Linked DNA regions of Homo sapiens: region 2 is linked to region 1. The links come from fine-mapping of genetic effects on gene expression. Tissue or cell type: testis. Region 1 holds a variant in brackets; the other region holds the start of a gene. All regions are shown on one strand. Distances are between the middles of the regions.

What was found. PIP is the estimated chance that this variant, and not a neighbour inherited with it, causes the effect.
Region 2: LINC02220 starts here. The variant in region 1 is the best candidate, but not a certain one, in a credible set for the expression of LINC02220 in testis (GTEx, PIP 0.57).

What each region holds. Positions count from the first base shown.
Region 1 is chr5:12,876,446-12,881,844 of GRCh38, forward strand. It overlaps LINC02220 (long intergenic non-protein coding RNA 2220), which reads right to left. Exons shown (of 5, transcript NR_147005.1): 5 at 1,027-1,130. Among named protein-coding and RNA genes, the nearest start is that of LINC02220, 150 kb to the right of the region's middle. The variant C/T (reference allele first, on the strand shown) is at 3,211.
Region 2 is chr5:13,029,951-13,035,349 of GRCh38, forward strand. LINC02220 (long intergenic non-protein coding RNA 2220) reads right to left here and starts at 2,936. Exons shown (of 5, transcript NR_147005.1): 1 at 2,836-2,936; 2 at 2,061-2,125.

The sequences.
Region 1 (5,399 bases):
TTTATTCACAAAGAAAAATATTGAATAAGAAAATCCATGGAATACCCAGTTTCAAGATTCTCATGCAAATTTAACCAGTAAGCAAGCTAGAAAACACTAAACAACATCAATTTCTCCTTGTGATAGGGACAGGGGGAAGAAAATTTTTTTTCTAGGCAAAAAAGAGTGGGTCTCCAATGAAACTCCACCCTCAAGCTGAAGAGCCTAAAACCACTGCCCAAATTGAGAACTTATATTCCTGTCTTCTCACTCAAATGTTGCCTTTTTCTAAACCACCCATGACCATACCCCACCACATCCTGTGCCTATAAAAACCCCAGATTCAGCCAGTAGATGGGACTACAGCTGGATGCCAGAGATAAACAGCTTGATTTCAGAGGGACAGCTTAATGGCATAACTTCTGAGAAGAATCCAGCTGGAGATGACCAGACATCAGGGGAAGAATACCTTCCCACCTCATCCCCTTTTCAGCTTCCCTTCCCACTGAGAACCACTTTCAGCAGCAATAAAATCCCCCACATTTACCATCCTTCAACTTATTAATATGACTTCATTTTTCCTGGATGCCAGACAAGAGCTCAGGAGTCACAAATGCAGATACAAAAGGCTGTCACTCTGGTCCTTTGCCCTCATTGGCAGAGGGCAGCTGCATCACACAAAAAGGCAAAGGGCACACTGAGCTGTTAACACTTAAGCCATCAGTGGATGGCAGAGCTAAAAGAGCACTGTAACGCACCCTTTGGGGCATTGGGCATCACAGGCACCCTGACCTGGATGCTACCATAGGGCCTACATGGAGTTTGCTCCTGCCAGCACCCAAAACAGGCCAGTGGGATCCCCTACTTGTGCTCCCTCCCACAAGGGATTTGAGCATGGCAAGCTGAGTAAACTGAGTTTGTTCCTGCCAGCACCGAAAAGCACTCGCTCTGGTTCCTACACCTACTCACCTGCGTGGTCCCTCCTGGAAGGGGTGGAAGGCATCAGGTAAGAGTGAGTGGGGTTTGATCCCCCTGGCACCGAAGCAGCTGGCAGGTTCCAGTGGTCATTCACTCCAGTTCCTGCACTTGTTTGCTTACATGCTCCCTCCCACAAGGAGTTTACACTGTCACGCTGAGTAAATGAGGCAACCCTGTAGTGAGTCCCAAGAAGGGGTCAGGGAAATATCCTACTTCACAAGCATGGTAAACATATAATTTTAGATAACTAAAAACAAAGGTAGAACTTATTAATTATTTGAAATATTGCTCATATATTATTGTGCTAATTACATTTAGCAAACTTAGAGGTGTCTATAATACTTATAAATTATATATAATATACCCACCTTTAATTAGTATTGGTAAAATATTAAGAAAATATTTACTTGAAAAAGGTATAGTATATGAGTATACTTATAATTTTTATGTTCACATATTTTTGTAGTGAAAATAGAATTATTTTTAATATAGACTTTTTTTCTCATTAACATATCCATCTAATTTGGAGATATTTAAAATACAGAAAAATGCAAAGATAAGATGAGAGACACCCACAAACTATACTATATTTACCTTTAAAATTGTTATTTATTTTATGGAAAACAATGAGAAGCATATTTGAGCATTTCCAAATATCTGCAACCAAATATCTTTCTCTTCTGGAGAAAACATTATTGAGAAATTTTGGAGTAGTTTCTCTAAGTCTGTTTTTCTTTTGCTGTTGTTTGATAATACACCTATATTTAATCATAAATAATTTCAAGTGCTATAATATTTGTTTTAAAAGTATGTTTGTTTTAAAATTTGAAATGTTTATACATTTTAAAATAAACATCATAGCACTTGAAACTTATTTGTGACTAGACATAGGTGTACTTTTCACTGTTTCTCAACAACATACATTCTTAATCAACCTGCTATCAGCAATCAACATTATGTTTTCAAAATCATTAATGCCACTCGCTTGATATTTTTCTTTGATGCATGAAAGTTAATTTTGATAAAGTCCAATTTATTATTTCTTTAGTTACTTTTACTTGTGGCATTATACTCAAAGAAACATCGCCAATTCTAAGGTCATGAAATGGATCCCTGTGTTTTATTTTAATAGTTCTCTAGTTTTAACTCACATTTAGGTCTTTATCTACTTTGAGTTTATTTTTGTACTTGGTTTAATGTATGGATCCAATTTCATTCTTTTGCATATCCAGTTGTTTCAACTGGATTCATAAACTTCAGTCTGTCAACTGACAGATTTATAAACTCATGTATCTTTGATAAATTGACTTTTAATGAGGATGACAAGACCATTCAATAGGAAAAGAACACATGAACGAATGATGCTGATGCAACTGGATAACCAAAAACAAGTAAAAGCTATACAATTAAAAAGGAAATAGCAGAACTATCTCCATTCATAGTTTTCATAATTTTAAAAACACAACATTCCCATGAATACACACAAACACACACACACATACACACAATCTTCGAGTTAACATAGTCAGCACAGGTACAATATACAAGATAAATACACAAAATGTGGATATCCAGTTGTCTCAGCATCATGTGTTAATGTGTTCTTTTCCTAGTGAATGGTCTTGGCACCCTTATTACAAATCAACTGACCACAGATGCATACATTTATTTCTCGACTCGCAATTATATTTCACTGATAAATATGCCTATCCTTGTGCCAGTTCCACTGTTTGAATTACTTGAGATTTGTAGAAGGTTTGGAAATTGAAAAGTGTTCATCCTCCAAATGTGTTCTTTTTCAAAATCATTTTGGCTACTCAGGGTACCTTGCAATCTCATATGAATTGTAGAATTGACTTTACCGTTTCTGAAAACAAAAACCATTGGGATTTTGACAGGGTTTGCACTGAATATGTAGATCACTTTGGGGAGTATTTTCATCTTAATATTAATTATTTATATTAATAAATGCAAGATATTTTTCATTATGTAGGTTCTTAATTTATTTCAACAGTGGTTTTTAGTTGTCAGCATACACATCTTTCTCCTTCATTTTATATATATATATATACACACACATATATGTAAAAGCTTAATAATATATATAATGAAGAAGGTGAAAGACGTGTATAATAACATTAAATTATATATACGCATTCTGATGTTATTGTAAATGAAAATTTTTTGTTTCTTTTTTAGGTTATTTGTTGCTAGTCTATAGCAATACTGTTGATTTTGTGTATTTACATTGTA[C/T]ACTGTAAATGTGCTGAATGTATTAACTCTAAGGTTTTTGTGTGTATGTATGTTTGTGCATTCTTTGGAATATTATATAATTATACAACAGTGAATAGAGTTAATTATACTACTTTCTTTTAATTGTATATCTTTTATTTGTATTTTTCTTTAATTGTTCTGGCTTGAATATCAAGTAAATGTTGAATAGAAGTGGTTAAAGTGGATATCCTCATCTTGTTCCTGCTCTGAGGATGAAAGCTTTCATCATTGAGTAGACTAGAGTGTTTATTTTTTTAATAAGTGCCCTGTATTATGTTGAGGAAATTTCCTCTATTTCTAGTTTTTGAGTCTTTCGATTACAAAAGAGGTTTAATTTTCTTCTAATAATCTTACTCCATAAATTGAGATGTACATATTTTTGTTGTTGTTTTTATTATTTTATTTTGGTGTCTTGCCCTTAGTGTTTTTGTATTTTTTAAATGTTAAACAACTCTTGCATTCCTAGAATAAATCCCACTTGGTCATAGTGAATTGCCCTTTTAATATGCTGCTAAATTCTGTTTGCTGCTATTTGCCAATAATTTTCGTGTCAATTGTTATAAAGGATATTGGCCTATAGTATTCATTTGTTATGATGTCAGTCTCTATCTTCGGTACTAGCATAATGCTGATCTCATAGAATGATTTAGAAAGTGTTTCACCTTCTGATTACTAGAAGGGTTTGTAAAAGATTGGCATTAGTTTTCTTTAAATATTTGATAGAATTCACTGTTGAAACCATCTGGTTGTGAGATTTTCTTACTTGAAGTTTTTTTTAAATGACACATTCAATCTCTATTTGTTAAATGTCTATTCAGATTTTGTATTTCTTCTTGAGTCAGTTTTGTAATCTGTGTTTCTAGGAATTTGTCAATTTCTTCATGGATATCTAATTTGTAGTGTATAATTTTCATAGTTTTTTCTTATAATTTTTTTTTAAGGTTTGACATAATATTGTTACTTTCATGTCTGAGTTTAGTGATTAAGTCTTGTTCCACTTTCTTGATCAGTATAGCTAAATTTTTGCAATTTTATTGACTTTTTTCAAAGAACCAACTTTTGGTTTTATTATTCTACTTTTTGATTGTACTTTTGAAATTTGTATTATAATCTCTATATTCCTTTTTTCTTATTAAATATATAACTAAATTAGGAAGAAGAGACAAATATCCCATGCATAAGAATTCCAAACAGCTTATGTAGATATCCTTATCTGAATAAGGAGGAAGAAAATATTCCACTCTTTAAGCATGGGCTTTGACAGTAGCTCTCTTCCAAAGAGTACAGTATGAAAAGGTAGAGGAGAGAGTAACTTTATGTTGGAGAAACTTGGTAAATTCAACTTCAAATCAAGGTCAACATCAATAGTCTGTACCCTTGATATGTTTCAATAAAAATGACATGAACTATAGAGTTTAGTTAATGCTAATGCACCAATATTGGTTCATTCATCATAACAAATGCACCATAGTCATATAAGATAGTAATAATAGGGGGAACTGAGTGAGAGAGTATATAGGACATTTTTATACTACCATTTCAACTTTTCCCTAACTGTAAAAGTGTTTTAAAAATAAAATCTATTTTTATTTATTTTTTATTGTTGTATATATTCATTTTATTTTATTTTATTTTTAACTTTTAAGTTCAGGGGTACAAGTACAGGTTTGTTGCAAAGATAAACTTTTGTTATAGGGGTTTGCTGTATAGATTACTTCATCACCCAGATCTTAAGCCTAGTACCCATTAGTTATTCTTCCTGATCCTCTCCCTCCTCCCACCCTCCACCCTCCAAAAGGCCACAGCGTGTATTTTTAACGTCTATGTGTTTATGTGTTCTCTTCATTTAGCTAGCACTTAGAACTGAGAACATGCGGTATTTGGATTTTTGTTCCTGCATTGGTTTGCTAAGGATAATTTCCTCCAGCTCCCTCTATGTCCCTGTAAAGGGCATGATCTTGTTCTTTTTTATGACTTCATAGTATCCATGTTGTATAGAACCACACATACCATTTAACCCAACAATCCTATTACTGAGTATATGTCCAAATGAATATCAATCATTCTATTATAAAGACACATGCACACATATGTTCATTGTAGTACTATTCACAATAGCAAAGACACAGAATCAACCTAAAGTCTATTATTTAAAAAGCTGCTTGTTA
Region 2 (5,399 bases), 150 kb after region 1:
ACCTACCAATCACTTTAAATTGAATAATTTGGACAATCGAAGAATGGTTGCTGCTCTTATGTAATCAATGTACAATATACAGATCAATTCAAGGTAAGACAGAACATATATTTTGCTTTCCAAGTCATAGTAGAAAAGACATGTAAGTGAGTTTTAACATGAGTATGTGTAAGAAGAACTTGAAGCAGATAATCTTAGAGCTCTGCTTGTCATCCTTTGGCCAACTGCAGTGATGGTGGCCCACCTGCAGCTCAATGGGGGACCATTCTATACGAGATCAGGCTCCCACTACAAGAATTCTATTTCAAACACAACATATGACTCTATATTTTGCTGCCTTTGGGACCTCACCAAGACTGCAAAATCTTTGTCACAATTCTCAACCCCACTCACATTAGACACTCAAAAATTAATATACACAAGTGTCTTACTATTCTGACATTGTGAAGAAAACTGCAGTTGATCCCATTTACATATCATTTTATTTGAAATATTTTATGGCAATTATTTCTTATCACATGAAACATATTTACTTTCTGAACTTTCTTTTTAAACCAATTTCAAAATGTATAAGTTTGGCTCAGTCACAAGTTGAACCCCAAATATGTTGCTATCTGTATCTTATTTTCTTAGTGGGAGGAATAAAGACAGTATTGAAGTGAAAGCGATTTTGTAGTCAAGGACATAGTCTCTGAAAGAGACCCTTCAGGAGATACGAGGTTGCTGGCAAAACTGGTGTTCAGCACTGGAGATACTCAGCATGGGCAACAAGTTATCAGGAAGCAGCCACTCTTAGGGATAAAGACAGGAAGTAAAAGTGATAACAAGAATAATAGAGAAGTAGTCAGAATAGTAGAATTAAAGATGACTGAAGCCATCTAACATACCTCATAATTTTGTCAAAGCAGTTTTGGAACAGGAAGAGGTACAGCAGTAAGAAAATGCATAAATGATTCATGGTGCGTATTCCGATTGTAAATAAGTGTTGCACTTAAAGCTAGATGCCTTCTCATTTTTAAAAGTATAAAATGCTATGTCTTAAATAATAAAGAAGAGAATTACCAAGCTGAGAAATAAAAAATGCCACATCTGGGGCAGGAGTTAATATAAGACCAGCACATGAAAAAGTTTGGATAAAATAGTTATTTGTGTATTATGAAACATCCAGACTTCAATGGAATCTTCTGCACTTGCAACCTCTTTGAAAGGTGGCTTATGCATGCCCATGGCTTATGCATGCTCAGGGGAGCTGGTAATACTCACTCCAAGCTGCAATTGCACTTCTGTAAAACATAGACCTGTTTTAAACTGTGATCTTTCTCCAAAATTTAATTTCTCCACATTATATACCCACTATTTAATCAATGTCTTCCATATTTAAGCATAAACATAATTTGAGAAACACACATGCAAAAAGCTTTAAAACAATTTTTCAAAGTTCCAAAGATTGCTTAAAAAAAGAACATTGTAATAGGAAAAGGGGCTCTTTAGAACAAAAACAATCTAGACTTTCTGACAAAAATTAAGTATGTTTTTGTCTAATTTCCTAGCCTACCTGAGTAAACCCAGAGAAGCTTTCACATAAATTCATGAAGCATCATGCACTAAGATATTCACCATGATATCATTGAGGGTAACGGGGAGCTGGTTACAGCCTAGATTTTCCTAAGAGGATATGTAAAAGAATTATAGTTAATGCATACTGTGAAATGCGTGATGCAGTTAGAAAAAAATAAATTTTAAGGTAATAGAGTAACATTGATAAATGTAGTAAACATTTTTTGTAAAGAGATACGTTTTTAAAAACAGCATTAAACAAGACAGAAAACATTGATTCAGTTTATAAAATCCAAAAAAAAAAAACTTGAACACGTGCATTTTCACATATAGACACACAAGGACATATATCAAACATGTTGAACAGATTGCATATTGGAAGAGGCAAAAGAGTAGGTATTGAGAGGAAGGAGAGAAACAGTACAGCTACATAAGGTCTTGCTTGGGAGACGGAATACTTTGGGAATAGAGAGGACTCTGAGTAATTAATGAGTTAAACTCACTCAGATTGTTTTTTTCAGGTATCAGGTGTGTCCACAAAAACTATGAATGCCAGAGGAAATACTTTCTGAAAGAGAGTCATGGAAGAGAGAAAGTGTTAAAGAGTTTATAGAATTCATGGGATGGTTTTAGGTCATTGTAACATAAAAATTCTGAGATTAAATGATAGCACTTTTTTTAGTTATGTGTAAATAAAAGATGCAGAAGCATATGAACAAGGTTCAGCTGTTAGTGATTACAAAAAAGGAAAATAAATGTGTAAGAAAATGTATCATTGTGAGCAGGGATTTTTCTATATTTTATTTTAAAATTTTGTGTGAATTGCATGTTTACAAATTTATGATTTTATGTTTCATGTCGCATTTGCCCTATTTTCAAAAATTCAATATTTGGCATCCTGCTTATGTAATTATATAACTCTTTATTACTTCCATGTTATGAAATATGATAACATGTTTATAACTTGTCAAACACAGCCAAAGCTCTTCCCCCTTCCTGAACTAGAGGGAAAGATTATGTCTATATTCTCAGAAAATGAACTGCCATGGGTATTCAAAGTGATCAACCCCACCACCTGCACCACAAAAGAATTTGAACAATTACTTTTATAACCTAGCAGTTGCTAATTTCAAATTAGGTTTCACAGAGGAGATTTTTTTAATGAACCATAATTTGATTGCCTGTGATACACACAAATGACTATTTAGTGTATAATGCTAGAATTGTAGGGCCCATACACACCATACCCATACACACACATACACCACACCCACTCACATGAAACTATGCTCTTAGCTTAGACTTTGGTTGCTCTCCTCTTTTCCATTGGGTGCATTCCTCTCTTCTAGTGAGGATAAGACTCCAAATCCATGCAGCTCTTAAAAGAAGGATCATGAATTTCTGATGTCCCAAAACTCCAAGAGAATAAGAATCATACAGGATTCTAGAACACTGCTAGGCAGGAAAAGTGAGAACAGTAATGGCAAAAGTCTGACACTGAAGGCTCCCATGAGAACTCCAGGCGTGGAGGAGTAGGATCTGTGGTGTAAAATCTACCCTCTTTGGTTACACCGTAAGTTGAGTCCATAAGAATTGTGGGGAAATGGGTGCACCCCTCTTGTATACCAGCTTAGAAGAGTTAGGTTGAAAATAAAAGCACTCTTCTCATATCTTATTTCAATTTTCTTAGTTTAGAGTATAAGAATGCAACAAAGCATCGAGTTATTCATAAAATACTGTATTTGGTGTATTAGTAGTTAATAGTTACTATTAATTTTTGTTTGTTTGTTTTTGAGATAGTTTTGCTCTTGTTTCCCAGGCTAGAGTGCAATGGAATGATCTTGGTTCACTGCAACCTCCACCTCCCAGGTTCAAGTGATTCTCTTGCCTCACCCTCCCCAGTAGCTGGGATTACAGGCTTGTGCAACCACACCTGGCTAATTTTGTATTTTGAGTAGAGACAGGGTTTCTCCATGTTGATCAGGCTGGTCTTGAACTCCTGACCTCAGGTGATCCACCCTCCTCGGCCTCCCAATGTGCTGGGATTACAGGCATGAGCCACCACGCCCGGCCTAATTTTATCATGAATACTATTAGTAATAATATACCGTATAATAAAGTTACAGTTTTATATTAATATTATATTTGTATAATGGTTTTTAGTTATTGATACTATATATTACATTATAACATAGTCATGATTTTTTTTTTCTTATCAGGATTAAGGGACTAGAAGAAAATCATCCAAGAAACATAATTCTTGTATTTCTTTCTTCCTAGAGATGTCAATTATCTATCTGGATAAAAATACAGCATGTCACATTTTGCAAAGCAGACATTGGACTTAAATGGAAAATGTGTGGCACCTGTATTCTTATTTCAATCTCTTTATCTCTTTATTTGCATCTGATGTGTCAAATTATCAAGGAACTCTTTAGACAAAGAATAGGACAAGCAAATTAAATAAGTTCTCATAAGCCTTCATCTTTTATAAATTGCCATAAAGCATAAAGATAAGATTCAAGAAAGGCTGCTATTTAAAAGTTCCTGTTTGTAGAATAGCTTCTCTGATCTTGCCATTGTTCCTTTACATTTTTGTCTCTTCAAATTCTGGCAGGTATGCAATATCTCATACAGCAGCTTTTGAGAACAGAACTTGAATAATAAAACTTAGCAATCTGATACTTATGAAAACAGAAGAAAGGTTTATTTTTCTAACTCCAGATATAGTCAAAATTTAGTCAGTCATTGTTAGTGGTATAAGACAAAAAGTAAACACTGCGAGTGTGACTCACGGGTTAGTCTATGTAATTCTACTTAATATGATTGTGAAAAAGTATTAAAATATAGCAATCAGCAATATAATTGATGTAGTAATATAAGTGCAAGAAAAAATAATAAAAAAGTCATCTGGCAGAAAATATATATTTTTCTTTCTGTCTAAATCAAAATTTAAAAATCACCAATGCTTTATAACATTTCTTTTTTATTAGAAATTACTTTAAAGACATAGTCCAAATAAATAATTGCTTAAAGATAATTTACGTTAAAGACAGATCAATATTAATTTCAGTAGGATTTATAACCGTTATGTTGGTATAAGCTTTAATTATACATATTATTGAATATTTTATTGCCCTCAACAAATCTCAATAAAAATCTGGGCAAAAGCAAGAATCTATATTTTAATTCAATGAAAAATAAGAATTACAATTTTAAGTGTTTATTTCAGCTAAAAAAAAGTACGTAGACTTCAAAAAAAAAATACAGCTCTTTTTATTTATAGATAGCATGATTGTCTACTTAAGTCCCCCAGGGAAAAAATGACTGAAAATAGTAAGGAAGGATAACAAAAAAATTACAATGGCATTAAAGAAGGTGAAACACTTAGGTATGAATCTAACAGAAATGGAAGGTGTTTATATGCAAAAAACTACAAAACTTTGATGAATAAAAGAGAAGATCTAATTAAATGAAATATTTTGTTTTCATGGATTATCAGACTTGATATTATGGTATAAATTGTGCATAACTCAACCTATAAATCCAGGAAGCTAGTTTCTAGCTATTGACAAATGAATTCTAAAGTGTGTATTAAAAGGCAAAAGACCTAGAACAGCCAACACAGTGTTGAAGTAAAAACACAAAGTTGGAGGACTTACACTATCCAACTTGAAGACTATAAGCTGCAGTCATTAACACAGTGTGATAACGGTGAAAGAACAGACACATGGATCAATGCAACAAAATAAAGTGCCCGTGTACAGACTCACACAGATAGTCCACTGACCTTTGATAAATGACCAAAGGTAATTAATAGAAGAAATGATAGCCGGTAGAAC